Linked DNA regions of Homo sapiens: region 2 is linked to region 1. The links come from fine-mapping of genetic effects on gene expression. Tissue or cell type: monocytes after Pam3CSK4. Region 1 holds a variant in brackets; the other region holds the start of a gene. All regions are shown on one strand. Distances are between the middles of the regions.

Region 1 (5,367 bases):
CCCGAGTAGCTGAGGCTACAGATGTGTCCTACCATGCCCAGCTAATTTTTATATTTTTAGTAGAGAGAGGGTTTCCCTATGATGACCAGGCTGGTCTTGGACTCCTGACCTCAAGTGAGCCACCCGTCTCGGCCTCCCCAAGTGCTGGGATGACAGGCGTGGGCCACCACACCCGGCCCGTGTTAGGATAAATCTTGACACGCACTAACTTGGTGGTACCACACCCGGCCAGTGTTAGGATAAATCTTGACAAGTCTAACTTGATGGTTCTCAAAGCAAAATCCGAGGAACCCTGAGGGTCCCTTAGTGTCCTTCAGGGCCTGTGAGGTGAAAACTGTCTTCATGATCACACTCGCACGCCATTTGTCTCCTCACTCTCTTCCCATGAGAGGACAGTGGCGTTTTCCAGAGGCTGCATGACAGGTGACGTCACAACAGACAGCTCTAAGACTCCAGCTGTCTTCCATTAAACCCAACTCTTAACGTTACTGCCAATAGGTTCGTTATTGCTATTTTAAGTGGCTACGTATTAAAATGTTTCCAGCTTTAATTTTTGATACAGTAAGTATGGAAAGATACAGGCAACATAAACAAATGTTCTCTGTGTCTTCAATAATTTTTAAGAATGTAAAGGGGTTCTCAGACAAAAGAGGCTGAAGGTCACTATCTCAGAAGATTACAGCGGACTTCCGGCAAAACACGGCAAAGGGAACACAGTTTTTCTTCCCTTCATTAAATCTCAGTAAAAATGATGGAAAAGGCAGAAAGCCACAGTCACAAGGGGGGCGGGAGAGGGAGACAGTGGCGGGGGGCAGGGGGGAGAAGGCCACACAGCGCCAGGAGCTGACTCAGCACACAACAGAACCCAAAACGGGGTGGGGAGTGGGGTGGGGGTGGGAAGGAAATGCGTTCCCAGATTGCGATGGCCTGCCTGTGCCCAGAACTAGAACCAAATCAAGGCACGTCTCAGTAACATTTCAGATCATCAGAGATTTTTTAAAAACAGCTTCCAGGAAAAGAAAACAAAAATAGGTCACATTCAAAGGATTGGGATAAAAATGGCATCAGATTTCTCAATACTGATGTTGGAAACTAGAAAACTATGGTCTGCCGCCTTCAACATCTCAGCCACAATTTATCTTTCTTTCAAATAAAGACAATAATATAAGCTCCCTCTTTGAGAGAAAAATATGAGTGTAAAAGATACCCTCTCCCAGAAATAAAGGGAATTAAAGGGCTACTATGAAGCATGTCATTTGTTTGTCTTTTTGCTGAAACTTCCGTTACTGTGAAAGAAGCTTTATTACCATCTTCCAAAAGAAGGGCATCGGCCAAAAGCTCGTCCTCAGGGAGCAGGCTGCCGTCATCCTCCATGCTGGGAGATAGAAATTAGCTGCAAAAGATGATCGCAAAATATAGATCAATAAAATCATAGATTTAAAAGACGGTGAATTAACCATTTCTCTTAAAGAAGGCATTAAGAAAACAAACGACAGATTAGGAAAAAATATTTGCAGCACACACATATCTGACACAAGTCTTACATCTGGAACACATGAAGAGCTCCTATCAACCACATGAAGTCCAAACTCCAGTTTAAAAGGTCAAAGAGGCCGGGCGCGGTGGCTCATGCCTGTAATCCCAGCACTTTGGGAGGCCGAGGCAGGTGGATCACCTGAGGTCAGGAGTTCCAGACCAGCCTGGCCAACGTGGTGAGGCTACAGTGAGCTGTGATGGCACCACTGCACTCCAGCCTGGGCAACAGAGTGAGACCCTGTCACAAAAGAAAAAAGAAACTGCCCAACAGTATCCTCGAGTATCACTTTACACTCCCACCAGCAAATACCAAATTAAAATAATGAAATACAACATTAGCTGGGTGTGGTGGCGCATGCCTATAATCCCAGCTACTCAGGAGGCTGAGGCAGGAGAATTGCTTGAACCCGGGAGGCAGAGGTTGCAGTGAGCCGAGATAGTGCCACTGCACTCCAGCCTGGGGACAAGAGCGAGACTCCATCTCAAGAAAAAAATGTCAAAAGATTTGGAATTCCATAAGAAAAGAGATATACAAATGGCCAATATGCATGTGAAACTGTGTAACATCAGTATCTTTAAGGAAATATGAATCAAGCCATAATGAGATACTATTATATACTGAGTAGAATGCCTGAGATTGGCTGGGCGTGGTGGCTCACACCTGTAATCCCAGCACTTTGGGAGGCC[A/G]AGGTGGGCGGATCACGAGGTCAGGAGATCGAGACTATCCTGGCTAGCACAGTGAAACCCCATCTCTACTAAAAAACAGAAAAAATTAGCCGGGCATGGTGGCAGGCGCCTGCGGTCCCAGCTACTCGGGAGGCTGAGGCAGGAGAATGGTGTGAACCCAGGAGGCGGAGCTTGCAGTGAGCCGAGATCGCGCCACTGCACTCCAGCCTGGGTGACAGAGCGAGACTCCGTCTCAAAAAAAAAAAAATGCCTGAGATCAAAACGCTGCCAACAGTGAGCACTGGCAAGGCTATGGAAGGGCTGGCATCGTCACGCGTTGCTGGTGGGAGTGTAAAGGGATACTCTGGAACACTGTTGGGCAATTTCTGTTTTCTTTTGTGACAGGGTCTCACTCTGTTGCCCAGGCTGGAGTGCAGTGACACAATCACAGTTTACTACAGCCTCAAACTTCTGGGCTCAAGCAATCTTCCCGCCTCAGCTTCACAAGTGCTAAGACTACACGCACATGCCGCCATGCCCAGGTAATTTTCAAATTATTGGTTGAGATGGTGGGTCTCTCTTTGTTGCCCAGGCTAGTCTTGAACTCCTGGTCTCAGCCAGGATTCACCCACCTCAACCTCCCAAAGTGCTGGGATTACAAGCTTGAGCCACTACATCTGGCACCAAAAACAATTTTTTTTTTTTTGGAGATGAAGTCTCGCTCAGTCTCCCAGGCTGGAGTGCAGTGGCGGGATCTTGGCTCACTGCAAGCTCTGCCTCCTGGGTTCACGCCCCTCTCCTGTCTCAGCCTCCCGAGTAGCTGGGACTACAGGCGCCCACCACTACGCCCAGCTAATTTTTTTGTATTTTTATTAGAGATGGGGTTTCACTGTGTTAGCCAGGATGGTCTCGATCTCCTGACCTCGTGACCCACCTGTCTCGGCCTCCCAAAGTGCTGGGATTACAGGCGTGAGCCACCACGCCTGGCCCAAAAACAATTCTTAAATAATTTCAAAATTATCATTACACTTTGCTTATCATTTTGGGAATGTTAGGAGCTTGCTCGTGTGGAACTCTTGGTACCGAATCTTCTGTGTCCAGATGTTGGAACTAAATAATTTCACTTAAGAAACAGGCCGGGCACAGTGGCTCGCGCTTATAATCCCAGCACTTTGGGAGGCCAAGGTGGGCAGATCACTTGAGGTCAGGAATTTGAGACCAGCCTGGCCAGCATGGTGAAACCCCATCTCTACTAAAAATACAAAAACTAGCCAGGTATGGTGGCAGGCACCTGTAGTCCCAGCTACTTGGGAGGCTGAGGCCCGAGAATTGCTTGAGCCCAGGAGGCGGAGGTTGCAGTGAGCCGAGATCACGCCACTGCATTCTAGCCTGGGCGACAGGGGAAGACTGTCTCAAAAAAAAAAAAAAAAAAAAGAAACAATGTTAAAATCACAAACTCTTTACTTATTTTTTTCTGGTGAGAATTAAATTTAATGGCTAACTTTCTTTTATTTTTTTGAGACAGGGTTTGACTCTGTCACCCAGGCTGGAGTGCAGTGGTGCGATCACAGCTCACTGCAGCCTCCAACTCCTGGGCTCAATTGATCCTCCTGCTTCAGCCTCCCAAAGGAGCTGGGACTACAGGCACGCACCACCACACCCAACTGATTTTTGTATTTTCTGTAGAGACAGGGTTTTGCCATGTTGCCCAGGCTGGTCTCAAACTTTTGGGATCAAGTGATCCACCTGCCTTGGCCTTCCCAAGTGTTAGAACTAGAGGCGTGAGCCACCGTGCCCGGCCGGTGGCTGTTTTCTATTAGACCTTAAATATGTGATTGGTTTTAACGCCTATTAATCACATTGTGCTTGTACCATGATTAATATACAAAACAGCTGATGTCAAATGCTTATAAATCAGCAGGGCACAGTGGCTCACGCCTGCAATCCCAGCACTTTGGGAGGCCGAGGCAGGTGGATCACGAGGTCAGGAGATCGAGACCATCCTGGCTAACACAATGAAACCCCACCTCTACTAAAAATACAAAAAATTAGCCGGGCGTGGTGGCGGGCGCCTATAGTCCCAGCTACTCGGGAGGCTGAGGCAGGAGAATGGCGTGAACCCGGGAGGCGGAGCTTGCAGTGAGCCGAGATCACACCACTGCACTCCAGCCTGGGCGACAGAGCAAGACTCCGTCTCAAAAAAAATAAAAATAAAATAAAAATAAAAAAATGTAGCCAGGCGTGGTGGTGGGCACCTGTAGTCCCACCTATTCAGGAGGCTGCGGTGGGAGGATCACTTGAGCCCAGGAGGTCGAGGCTGCCGTGAGCTGTGATTGTGCCACTGCAGGCCAGCCTGGGTGACAGAGCAAGACCCTGACTCTAAAAGGGTTAAAAAAAAAAAAAAAAAAAGCTTTAAGTCAATGTACCTAGTATAGAGACAGACATTTAACATTGGGAATTAGCACTACCATTTTGCATTGAAATAATGAGTAATTCCGGGTGAAATGTACATAAATGTTGACATTATGTATGAGATGCTAAAACTGTAAAATTGTAGAGGACTGTGTTTCATTGCTTAACTTAGCAATCGCTTCAGAATAATTCACTAAAAATATTTTCAGTGCCTAGCAATGTTTCTTGGATAAATTATTAATGTATCAATGCCAGTAATTTTTTAAACTTACAAAGAAACAATTGCATTTTAAAGTCCTGGGAGGCAGAATTTTAAGGCATCTTGTAAAATTCCAACAATATTTTTTCCACTTGAAAGAACTGATTAAGCTGCTAGTCTTTGAATGGCAGGATTTTCAGAAACTATTTAGAAAATGGCCAAACCTATTCAGCTCTGTGCTTGTGAATTCCATGCGGCCTCCGCGACGTCATTTTGCTGGACACCCCGTGGATGTCAGTCTTCTAAAAGGTGTCATTGCACACACACAGTTCCTCTGAAGATGATCACACTAAACCATATACACTGAGCATCCGGTTAAAGACGGCACTTCCAACAGGCAGCCACCTCTGATCTCTCCTGAGTCCTCACTAACAACAGGGGGTAGATTTATTGTTTTCAGTACATGAATCTACCAGGGCAAGGGTCATTGGGAGAAACAGGAGCAAAGAGAAGCGGGAGGTGGAGGGATGAGGGTAGCTGTCCCTGCAGACAGA
Region 2 (5,367 bases), 820 kb before region 1:
CCAGGGAGGGGAGGCTGCAGGGGTTGGGGGACCTGCCCGCTGCACCCCCTCTCCCCCCACACAAGGAAACCCGTCCTCCGAGGTGTGTGTCCAGATCACATCCTCCAAAGGCCGGTGCGCCACAAAGATGAACACGGGGCTCTCCCTCCCAGCCCAGGGGCAAGGACCCTGCCTTGCTCTGTTCCCGGAAGGGCCAGTTCTGGAGAGGAGCTGGGCGAGTCCTTCCCATCCCCATCAGCTCCTGTCAGGCCACCTGCCTCAGCCTCAGGGAGGAGGGGACACACGTAGGCCCCTTCCCAGAGTCAGAGCTTCCGAACCCGGATCTGCTGCTCCCAGCCTGGAGAGCCACAGCAGCCACCGAAGGAACCCCCCACCCGTCACCCCCACCAAGTGGGCCCTGCTCCCCGAAGGCCCAGCCACTCAGCCCAGGACCTGCCCCAGCCCCACCTGCCACCTGACCTGAGGCTCCCAGAGGGCAGAGGGGCCTCCTGGGTCTGCTCCGCACCAGGGTCCAGCGGGACCATCTCAAAGCTTGAGCACCAGGCGCAAGGTGGGAGTGCGGGGAGGGGACGAGGACACTGTTCCCAGCTGGACAGAACCAGGAGGACGGTGGGAGACGCCCCCCACCGCCCCGCTTCCGAGAGCTCTCTCTTCCTTCCAGGGACTCCCCAGGGACAGCCGGGGCCCCTTCTTCCCCCACAGCTCAGGCCCCAGGGACACAGAGCGGGGAACCCCCAGGCTGCCGCCCCGGCGTGGGTCGGGGAGGCGGCTCCGGAGCGGGCACCACACTCTCGAAAGGGTGGCTTCTCCTCCCGGCTGCTGAAAAACCACACAGGCAGGCACAACAACAGACGCTTACGCCCGCATCTGGAGGCCAGAACTCCAAAGCCACAGGGCAGGCAGGGCTGCACCCCTCTGGGGGCTCCAGGAGAGGACCCTGTCTGCCTCCCCAGCCCCTGCCAGCTCAGGCATCAGTGGCTGTGGCCGTGTCACCCATCTCTGCCCCCCAGTCCCACGGCGTCTCCCCCACGTCTGCGTCTCCTCTCTCCACCTCCCTCTCAGGGGGGCAGAGGCCATTGATTCAGGGCCTGCCCTGGGTGATGTCACTAGAGATCCTGACGTAACCCCACCTGCAAAGCCCCTTCTTCTAAATAAGGTCACATTCGAGGTTTCAGGGCTATGATGTGGTTGTCTTTTGGGGGCACCACCAGCCCCCTGCAAGGGGACCCTAAGCACAGAGGCCCTCGTGACCCACGCAAAGCTCTGAAGGACACGGATGGGTAGGGGACACGTGGCTGGAGGCTCAGAGTTTGAGGCAGAGGGGATCAGACCGTGCCATGGGTCATGCCAGGAGCCCAGGACTCCCAGACCTCGTATCATTAGGTGTTTTAAAGAGAAGGCGAGGGCAGGCCAGGCGCAGTGACTCACGCCTGTAATCCCAGCACTTTGGGAGGCCGAGGCGGGCGGATCACCTGAGGTCAGGAGTTCAAGAGCAGCCTGGCCAACATGATGAAACCCTCTAAAATTAATAATAAATTAATAATAAAATAATTATAATAATATAGAAAATAATATATAAAATAATAAATATATAAAATATAAAACAAAATAAAAATAAAAAATAAAATTAATATTAAAAATACAAAAATTAGCTGGGCACTGTGGTGGGCACCTGTAATCCCAGCTACTCGGGAGGCTGAGGCAGGAGAATTGCTTGATCCTGGGAGGCGGAGGTTGCAGTGAGCCGAGACCGTACCATTGCACTCCAGCCTGGGCAAAAGAGTGAGACTCCGTATTTTGAAAAAAAAAAAAGAGAGAATGTGAGGGTTAAACAAAGACACACAGAGATGGAGAAAGGGCAGCCTTACATCAACACGGGTACATTGCAAACACCTGCAGAGGTGGGGGACCAGCTGGATGCCAGAGCCCACTGCCGCCTACGGGCTGGGGTGCCTATAGGTATGGGTGGGAGCGGCCCGGGCCACACGGCTTCAGGATGAGGCCGTTTGTTTGGCCCTTGTTCCCGCAGAAGGTAATCGTGATGTTCCTCGGTGTTTTTCCCCGCAGAGTGTTCAAGTCAGGTGTCGGGCAGGCTGTTCCTCACGGCCCAAACCCCTGCGGAATGCTTCACTTTGGCCGAGGTCTGTGACACAGCGAGGGGCTTACAGAAAGGTGCAGTTTGGACCGATAGATGTGAGTCCCCCTCTGGGGGGCACTCACTTTGTGGAGCCCCCGGTTCCTGTTTGCAGAGGGGGGCACAGTGGCACCTCGTCCGCTGTGGAGTGAGAACAGGGACCCGACCACGTGAAGCACAGAGAATGCTCAGGGATCGGCAGCCGTGTATCCAGCCAACATCACCAGGGTGCACGCAGAGCCTGGCCCGGGCCAGGTCCTGGGGTGCTGAGCATGGGTGGGGCCTGAGAGACGGCTCAGGGACCATCCTGGGAGGGCCGGGCGGAGGGGCAGCAACTGGGGCTCAGGCTCAGGCAGTCCCAGCAGTGACTGGGAGGCAGCTGTGCCCATGAAGCTGTGCCCTTCTCCAGCCTCAGCCCTCAGCCCGGCTTCCCGGGCTGGCCCCGCCACTCAGCAGCCCCTCCCCATCCTCCGAAAACCCAAGCTCACCTCTGGGTTCCGGCTGGGTGGGGGTTGCCAGGAGACGGTTGCCAGGTCACCACTGTTGTTTCCTGGCCCAGGCTCCCAGGACCTTGTGGGCTGGGCAGGTAAGAAGCGCCGGCGGCCACCAGCTGGGGTCCAGTGGGCTCGGCCCCGCCCTCCTACGCCCTGCCTGCGGGTCCCCTCGGGAGGCTGCTCAGGAGAGGAGGAGGCTGGGGAGGGGACTGGACAGGGATCGGGTAGGGTGGGGCCAGGCTGAGCCTGCTCTGCGGGTCCCGGACCCCAGCGCCACCGTGCGAGAGGCTCGGGTCCAGGCCAGGCCGGGGAACGGTGTGTGTACCCGGTGGGGTGGGAGGGCTGGGCAGCCCTGGGACGAGCTCCGTGGCCTGGGACCAGGTCTGCCTCCGCAGAGCAAGTCCTGGACGGACGGCTGCTTGAGCCCACAGGTCGTGCGTCCTTTGACAGCGGCCTCCGGCCGGGAGGCACCAGCTCTTCGAACAATGTCAGTACCTTCCTAGGGCCCCACGTGGCCAAGCTTGGATTCTGGGGGGAGAACTCGCAGCAGGACACTAACATGTGGTCGCTTTTTGGATGATTTCTTCAGGTTTAAAAGTCTCTTCTGTTCATCCTACCGGGGTGCCGTCTCCTGCCGGTCTTTTCATCTCACCAGGTAAAACGCTTATTTTACAATTTATTGTAAGGTCGTGCACCAAGTTTCCACGCCGCCTTTACACCGTGTCCCCACCGAGGGGCGTCACAACCGTCCTCCACACCGGGCGTCACCGGCTTCCCAAGTCCCACCGCTATAAAGGACACGTCAGTCAGCATCTCGGAGTGAGACGCTTTCCTTCTGGATTCAGAATCGCGTCCGTCAGAGACTCCAAAGCACATTTGCTAGATCGACAGGCGTGAGGAGCCAGCGGCTCCCGGCGCTTGGGAGGCTGCGTCCCACCTGCATTCAGGCCCCGGGTTCACCACACACACAGCGGGCAGCTGCTTAAGAAACCTTTGATTTCAGTCCGGGGCGGTGGCTCACGCCTGTAATCCCAGCACTTTGGGAGGCCGAGGTGGGCGGATCACGAGGTCAGGAGTTTGAGACCAGCCTGGTCAACATGGAGAAACCCTGTCTCTACTAAAAATACAAAAATTAGCCGGGCATGGCAGCAGGCGCCTGTAATCCCAGCTACTCAGGAGGCTGAGGCGGGAGAATTGTTTGAACCTGGGAGGCGGAGGTTACAGTGAGCCGCGATTGCGCCATTGCACTCCAGCCTGGGCGACAGAGTGAGACTTCGTCTAAAAAAATTAAAAAAAAAAACACCTTTAATTTCAATGACAAGAAATAACAGCTCACAACTTATTTAGTTATTTGTGAACATCATAAGGACATAAAGTTAGAAAAGCCCAAAGGAGGCCTCAGGCTTACGATGAAATCAGCACCTGGCTGCCTCTTCCAGCTGCTGCTTCTTCTGCAGCAGAAGAGACGGAGGCAGTTTCCTGGGTGGGGGGGTGGGTGCTGTGCTTCCGCTTTCTAACTGCCTGTTTCCAAAAAGCACCTGATGCTGCTGCTTCTGGAGCTTCCAGTGCAGAAATTCCCCGTGGACGGTGAAAGGGGCTTGTCTTCCACACGCTGCCCTGTCCATATCATCCCGGCACGAATGATGTTTGGGGCAGAGCTGCCCGGCCTCCCCGGGTGGTGCCCATTTGTTTTCCTCAGAGTTGGCGATCGCCTTGCTTTTCACATGTGCTTGTGTTCCCGCCTATCCTGAGCTGTCCCTGAGCTCTCTGCCTCCCGTCACCCCCACAGTCACCATCACCACAGCCCTGCAGACTGCGCAGTGTGTGGCGGGTGCTGTCCTGACATTACATGTGGAAACTCCATCTTTGCAGCAACCCTGCGAGGCTGCTGCTCCCAGCTGCTGTGCAGGTGGAGAGAGGCTGCTGTTGTGCAGGTGGAGAGGCTGCTGCTCCCAGCCGCTGTGCAGGTGGAGAGAGGCTGCCACCGTGCAGGTGGAGAGAGGCTGCCGCTGTGCCGGTGGAGAGGCTGCTGCCGTGCAGGTGGAGAGAGGCTGCCGCTGTGCCGGTGGAGAGGCTGCTGCTCCCAGCCGCTGTGCAGGTGGAGAGAGGCTGACGCTGTGCAGGTGGAAAGAGGCTGACGCTGTGCAGGTGGAGAGGCTGCTGCTCCCAGCCACTGTGCAGGTGGAGAGAGGCTGACGCTGTGCAGGTGGAGAGGCTGACGCTGTGCAGGTGGAGAGAGGCTGCCGCTGTGCAGGTGGAGAGACTGCTGCTCCCAGCCGCTGTGCAGGTGGAGAGAGGCTGACGCTGTGCAGGTGGAGAGAGGCTGACGCTGTGCAGGTGGAGAGAGGCTGCCGCTGTGCCGGTGGAGAGGCTGCTGCTCCCAGCCGCTGTGCAGGTGGAGAGAGGCTGACGCTGTGCAGGTGGAGAGAGGCTGACGCTGTGCAGGTGGAGAGGCTGCTGCTCCCAGCCGCTGTGCAGGTGGAGAGAGGCTGACACTGTGCAGGTGGAGAGAGGCTGACGCTGTGCAGCTGGAGAGAGGCTGACGCTGTACAGCTGGAGAGGCTGGGGCACACAGTCATCAGGTCAGCTGCAAGCTCACAGCTGCTGCATCTTTTCCCTGACAGCTCACTCCTGTGAGAGTCTTCCAGGCTTCCCGGAGGGACGGATGTCTCCTCACCTTTTCCCACCTCCACACCTTTTCCCACCTCCACACCTGGTAGGCCAGGTATGGAATTCCTG

Alleles and levels. Alleles are on the strand shown, and positions count from the first base shown. SD is a standard deviation of normalised expression in the study named.
As copies of G replace A in region 1, the expression in monocytes after Pam3CSK4 of the gene that starts at base 2,674 in region 2 goes down (large effect, 1.3 SD a copy in Quach 2016).

Evidence for each region. PIP is the estimated chance that this variant, and not a neighbour inherited with it, causes the effect.
Region 2: it holds the start of TTLL10, and the variant in region 1 is the best candidate, but not a certain one, in a credible set for the expression of TTLL10 in monocytes after Pam3CSK4 (Quach 2016, PIP 0.89).

What each region holds. Positions count from the first base shown.
Region 1 is chr1:1,989,583-1,994,949 of GRCh38, forward strand. CFAP74 (cilia and flagella associated protein 74) reads right to left here. Exons shown (of 39, transcript NM_001304360.2): 2 at 1,308-1,393. The coding sequence starts at 1,374. Among named protein-coding and RNA genes, the nearest start is that of CFAP74, 12 kb to the right of the region's middle. The variant A/G (reference allele first, on the strand shown) is at 2,224.
Region 2 is chr1:1,171,207-1,176,573 of GRCh38, forward strand. TTLL10 (tubulin tyrosine ligase like 10) reads left to right here and starts at 2,674. Exons shown (of 16, transcript NM_001130045.2): 1 at 2,674-2,720; 2 at 3,079-3,115; 3 at 3,218-3,283. TTLL10-AS1 (TTLL10 antisense RNA 1) reads right to left here. Exons shown (of 2, transcript NR_173246.1): 2 at 1,850-5,190. RefSeq lists enhancers at 1-167, 4,391-4,909 and a silencer at 2,824-2,913.